2 separate regions of the Homo sapiens genome follow, and region 2 is linked to region 1. The links come from fine-mapping of genetic effects on gene expression. A gene starts in region 1. The other region holds a variant in brackets. All regions are shown on one strand. Distances are from middle to middle.

Region 1 (2,910 bases):
TAAAATTAGGGCTTCGCTTTTAAAAAAAATTACAGACCAAAAAAAGTGTGGTTACACAATATAACTAGTATTGACTTAAGGGTACTGTGATCACCATGCAGTGATCCCATAAAAGATGTGACCAAAATACCCACTTAAAATTTGAACGTCAGTCATGTAAGAACATGTAAAAGATGAAGGGAATATTTCAAAAACGACTATCTGACGTAATATGATACTTACTATGACTCATATGGGCTTTGTTCTTCATCTCATCTTCAAATAAAAAGTTGATGATTAGAAAAAGGAGCATTAGAAGGGGGAAGTAACACTACTCGGCAATAGAGAAAAACTCCGGTCAAAGGAAGAGCATAGTTACAGAGCTCCGAATGTCAGGGAAAATCAAGCATCCGTCATTCGGAATTAGCTCTGTATCGGTCGGTTTCTTCATTACTTAATTGTACGGGGGGAAACTACTTCAAAGTAAGGGCTCTTACGAGAGGCAACTTAAGCATTTGAAAGTGCAGGTTTATTTCCTCCTAGCGAGAAGTAGGGGGTCACTAGTGAGAAACCTATTTCAATCTGTGAGACGCCCCCTTCTACTCAGCCCACGTGGCTAAAGTAAACAGAAGGTGGGCCGGGGCGGGGAGAAACAGAACTCGGTCAATTTCCCAGTTTGTCGGGTCTTTAAAAATACAGGCCCCTAAAGCACTAAGGGCATGCCCTCGGTGAAACAGGGGAGCGCTTCTGCTGAATGAGATTAAAGCGACAGAAAAGGGAAAGGAGAGCGCGGGCAACGGGATCTAAAGGGAGATAGAGACGCGGGCCTCTGAGGGTAAGGTGGGCGCAAGCGGAGGTGTGGTGCGGGGAGAGGTGCCAGTGGGTGGAGGCGGGGGCCAGAGCGAGGGCACGTGCGGGTACACTCCGGAGGAGGTGGGTGCGCGCGGGGGCGTGTGCGCGGGACCTCGAAGTGGTGGTGGAGTGCAGACCAGCAAAAAGTTTCAAAGGGAAATCTTAGATGTCACGTCTTTGTCCAGGCACCCGTGCCATCCCAACCTCCCACCTCGCCCCCAACCTTCGCGCTTGCTCTGCTTCTTCTCCCAGGGGTGGAGACCCGCCGAGGTCCCCGGGGTTCCCGAGGGCTGCACCCTTCCCCGCGCTCGCCAGCCCTGGCCCCTACTCCGCGCTGGTCCGGGCGCACCACTCCCCCCGCGCCACTGCACGGCGTGAGGGCAGCCCAGGTCTCCACTGCGCGCCCCGCTGTACGGCCCCAGGTGCCGCCGGCCTTTGTGCTGGACGCCCGGTGCGGGGGGCTAATTCCCTGGGAGCCGGGGCTGAGGGCCCCAGGGCGGCGGCGCAGGCCGGGGCGGAGCGGGAGGAGGCCGGGGCGGAGCAGGAGGAGGCCCGGGCGGAGGAGGAGAGCCGGCGGTAGCGGCAGTGGCAGCGGCGAGAGCTTGGGCGGCCGCCGCCGCCTCCTCGCGAGCGCCGCGCGCCCGGGTCCCGCTCGCATGCAAGTCACGTCCGCCCCCTCGGCGCGGCCGCCCCGAGACGCCGGCCCCGCTGAGTGATGAGAACAGACGTCAAACTGCCTTATGAATATTGATGCGGAGGCTAGGCTGCTTTCGTAGAGAAGCAGAAGGAAGCAAGATGGCTGCCCTTTAGGATTTGTTAGAAAGGAGACCCGACTGCAACTGCTGGATTGCTGCAAGGCTGAGGGACGAGAACGAGGTCAGAGCGCTTCTCTTATGCCGCGAAACTCTCCCTTTCTTCTCCCCTTCGCTTTTTCTCGGGCTTCCAGGGACTGGGGAGCAAACCCTGTAGTGTCACCCACAAATACCAAGAGGGAAGAGGGAAGCTTCACAAATTACTGGAGCCTCTTCAACATGGCTGACAAATATAGTTTTAATTCCCTCTACCCCTTTTAAACCTGTAGTTCTGTGTTCTCTTCTCTCCTCCTAATGCTCGTCCCCTCATCTCCCAGAAAACTTACCTTTGTGCCTCCGACGAGCCGGTTTCCCGGCCTTTTTTAATCCTCAGAAAAGTGATTTTTAAATTTGCTTTCCTTTCTAAAATAGTTCAGCTTTGGGGGCACTACTTTTCCCTTTAATCCTCTTCCCCTGTTTCTTTCGTGTAAGTGAAACGAGTCTCCCGTTTATCCTGAACAACCTCAGAGAGAACACTGATAGGGTGTTTTTCGACCCTTTTATCAGCTGTAGGGTCTGGGTCTGGGTTTGTGTCTGCCTCCTCCTACCTTCTTATCCCCCTTTAGGGGGCTGTACGAAGTGAATGTCACAGGGAGTGGAATTGGAGTACACTGAGTGGGTTTTTTTTTTCCTTAAGTCCGCGCGTTTTGTTAGCGGCGCTGAGTGAAAGAGGAAAGAATAGTTTCTCTGGTTCCCCAAACAAGACCAGAACTCACTTTTCTCAAGGTACATAAGTCAGCGCTGGGCTGAGCCTTCCAGCCTGGGGAATGTATGTAAGAGAATTTATGGACAAATCTGTGTCCCGGCTTTGTGCTTCTCCCGAATCAGCTTCGTTTGGTTCCTTGGTAAGTGACAGGCAGACACAAAGGCAGGCGCAGGCCCGGGGAGGGGGCGGGAGGGGGTGGGGAGCGCAGCGTTGGAGTTGCAAGACTGCAAGGTCAGGGGCGCCTAAAGAAATGAAACCCAATCCCAGCAAAGAAGTGAAGAGCAGATTTATAACAGTCCCATCCAAATTTCTCTTTGGCTTCTCTCTTTGGTCTTTCATCTCTCTGCCTTTCTCTCTGTGTCTCCTCTCTACTCTTTCTTCTCTCTCTCTCATACACATACACACACACACACACACACACACCTCACTCGCATCTTGCTGAATCTTTTCACTGGGACTGCTTGTCTAGTTTTATTAAGCTAATAGGGTTTGTATGGAGAGTTTTCTACCTATGACATAATG
Region 2 (2,910 bases), 150 kb after region 1:
GTTTATGACAGCAAAGAGGCCCTGGCAAACTGTTCTATCACGTGGTGCACATGGATAGAAGACAGCTGTCTCTAAGTTAATACCAGCCTCACTTTTCCCCATTCTTCACCTAAATGCATATTCAATTAAAAATTTCTTAAAAGAGTCTCACGTGACAGAGACAAATAGAGTGGTGATTAATAAAGCATAAGCATGGTTGACTGAGGGACCTGGGTCCAGACAGGGTTTCATCAACTACAAACTTGTTATTTATTAGCAAATTAGTAAACTTCTCTATGAGTTTGTCAGTAAAATGAGGATTATAACACCTACACCTCAGGAAACTTGAGAGAATTAAGTGAGATCACTCGTGTATGTCAGTCCTTGGTATAGTTTCTGTCATTATGTGTTCCAAAAATGATAGTTATTGGAGTTTAATTTTCTATAAATCTGAGTTTCACTTGGCATTGATTAATTTCAAAGTAAAATGTTTTTATAAAGTTTGAAAATGTAACAAAGTTCAACTATACCCATTCAATAATATGGATGAATCTAATAAATATTTAGCAAAAGAAGCCATACACAAGAGTACATAGTGTATTATTTAGTGCGTATGAAGTTCAAAATAGACAAAGCAAATCCATGTATTTTGAAAATCAGGGTAGCTACACTTTAGAGAAGATGGGGGTTGGTAGTGGGTAGTGACCGGCAGAGGGCTTGAGACAGAGGAATTTCTGATTTTAAAGTGCTGATAATATTCTTTTTCTGTATCTGGAAGCTGGTTACATGAGTGTATGCACTTGATGAAGGCTCACTGACCTTTATACTTATGATTGGTACTCTTTTCTGATATAGGTTAGACTTCATTATAAAGTTCACTAAATAAAGTTTTAAAAAGATAACAAAGTCATCACTTTTCCTACTATGGACAACTAGCTCCTCCCATTCATTCATGTTACAAATACTTATTAACTGCCTACTCTGTATGTTCCAGGCACAATTCTAGATGCATGAGGCACATCAGCAAATAAGAATCCTCCATTTGGACTGTTGTGGGGTGGGGGGAGGGGGGAGGGTTAGCATTAGGAGATATACCTAATGCTAAATGACAAGTTAATGGGTGCAGCACACCAGCATGGCACATGTATACATATATAACTAACCTGCACATTGTGCACATATACCCTAAAACTTAAAGTATAATAATAATTTTTAAAAAAACTAGAAAAAAAAATACAGCCTCCCCCCTCCAAAAAAAAAAAAAAAAAAAAAAAAGAATCCTCCATTTTCAGGAAGGGAAAAAAGAGGAAGAAAAAACCTGGCTAAAACTCCTGTTAATTAAGTTTCAATTTCCTCATGAGGCAAATGAAGATGATAAATATCCTGTCTACTTTTCAGAGTATA[C/T]TTATGTATTCTAAAACCTATCAGAAAAAGAAAAATCTTCTCCCCCAAGATCTCATAAACAACACACATTGATCTTGTGAGTAGTACCCTCAATGATTTCCTCATTGAGAGAATGAGGAAATGAGATTGAGAGAAAAGTATTTTTCTCACTGAGGCTCAGGCCTGTAGCCTCAGCTACTGGGGAGGCTGAGGAAGGAGGATTGCTTGAGTCCAGTTGTGGGCTGTAGTGCACTAGGCTGATCAGGTATTTGCACTAATTTGGCATCAATATGGTGACCTCTCATGAGCAGGGGACAATCAGGTTGCCTAAGGAGTGGTAAACTAGCCCAGGCCAGAACTGTAGCAGTTCAAAACTCCTGTGCTGATTAGCAGGGGGATGGAGTCCATGGGTAATCACTGTACTCCAGCTGGGGCAACAGAGAAAGACCCTACCCTGTCTTTTCTTTTTTTTTTTTAAGATATTTTTCTCAACTCTAAATATAGCCCTCCAAGCCTTCTTTACTTTGCCTTCTAGTGGGAGTTTCTAGTTACTGTTAGTTTCAAAATCCAGAAATTTGGAATAGTACCTAAGAGCAATTTCAGTGGAGAGATCATTCAGAAATATCAATTTCCATCAGTATCCCCCAAACTACTCATAAACTCCCCCAAAATGTCATAAAACCTCCAGCATGGCATCCAGGAGCAGAAAAAGAAAGTCATAAAATCTGAGTTTAGGAGTACTGTCAACAAAATTGCAGACTAGGAAGCTCCAAGTCTTCACTTCCCCATGGAAACACTTTTAAAAAAAGAAAAAAAAAAAAAAACAGAAAAAAAAAGAAGAAACTGCTGGCTAAATTAACCCTACAGAAGCTCTGGAAAAATAATCACAGGTCTATAGCAATCAAGCAAATGCAAAAATCAAGAAAAAGCTGTATTCAAAATGATAAAAAAAAAATCATGCGCTGTTTTTATTTACCTTTGCCCTACCACCTCTCTGGCAAGGCAGTCTTGGTCTGGAAGAGGAAGCTTCCCAGTTTCCAGTTCCTTCCCATAAACTAGAGGGGCAGAGAAGACCTTATTTGCAAAGTTCTAACCTGTCTGGGGGCTACCTGAAGGTCTAGTCTGTTTTGCCTAACTTACATCTCAAATAAACAGAAGCAGTGGGTGCCGCTTATGAAAGCTACAGAGAGACTAAGACCAGCAGATGCCTGGAGCAAAAGGTTATGGGTAGAGACCTACAATAGGCCATGTAAGGTCCTAAGAAGCTAAAGGTGAGACTTTGGAAATGTAAAATATTCAAGAACCACCTTGTATATGGGGAAAATTGAGAAAGTCACACAAAGGCTCAGAATAGACCCATATGCAGAAAAGACTGGAGAAGAATTTGTTTTCCATTCAGGCTGGTCCCAAGGCCTAGAGAACACCCAGCTAATAAAAGAAGGACTACCCCTGCTCAGAGACAGTCCATAAAGACTGGGAGACATGGCTATTTTTCCAAATGCCCAATTTTTAAACAGTTTTTAACAAATTCACAAGGCATACAAGGAA

The links. PIP is the estimated chance that this variant, and not a neighbour inherited with it, causes the effect.
Region 2: its variant is fine-mapped to the expression of TET2 in blood mononuclear cells (TOPMed, PIP above 0.99). The same link has a PIP of 0.9 or more in whole blood.

Annotation. Positions count from the first base shown.
Region 1 is chr4:105,145,273-105,148,182 of GRCh38, forward strand. It overlaps TET2 (tet methylcytosine dioxygenase 2), which reads left to right and starts at 1,604. Exons shown (of 11, transcript NM_001127208.3): 1 at 1,604-1,707. It overlaps LOC124900868, which reads right to left. Exons shown (of 3, transcript XM_047416559.1): 2 at 223-1,689. The coding sequence ends at 1,001. RefSeq lists silencers at 866-1,545, 2,509-2,578 and enhancers at 1,616-1,785, 2,129-2,178.
Region 2 is chr4:105,292,127-105,295,036 of GRCh38, forward strand. The region is part of intron 2 of TET2-AS1 (TET2 antisense RNA 1); the gene reads right to left. It also overlaps the pseudogene RN7SL89P. Among named protein-coding and RNA genes, the nearest start is that of TET2-AS1, 59 kb to the right of the region's middle. The variant C/T (reference allele first, on the strand shown) is at 1,384.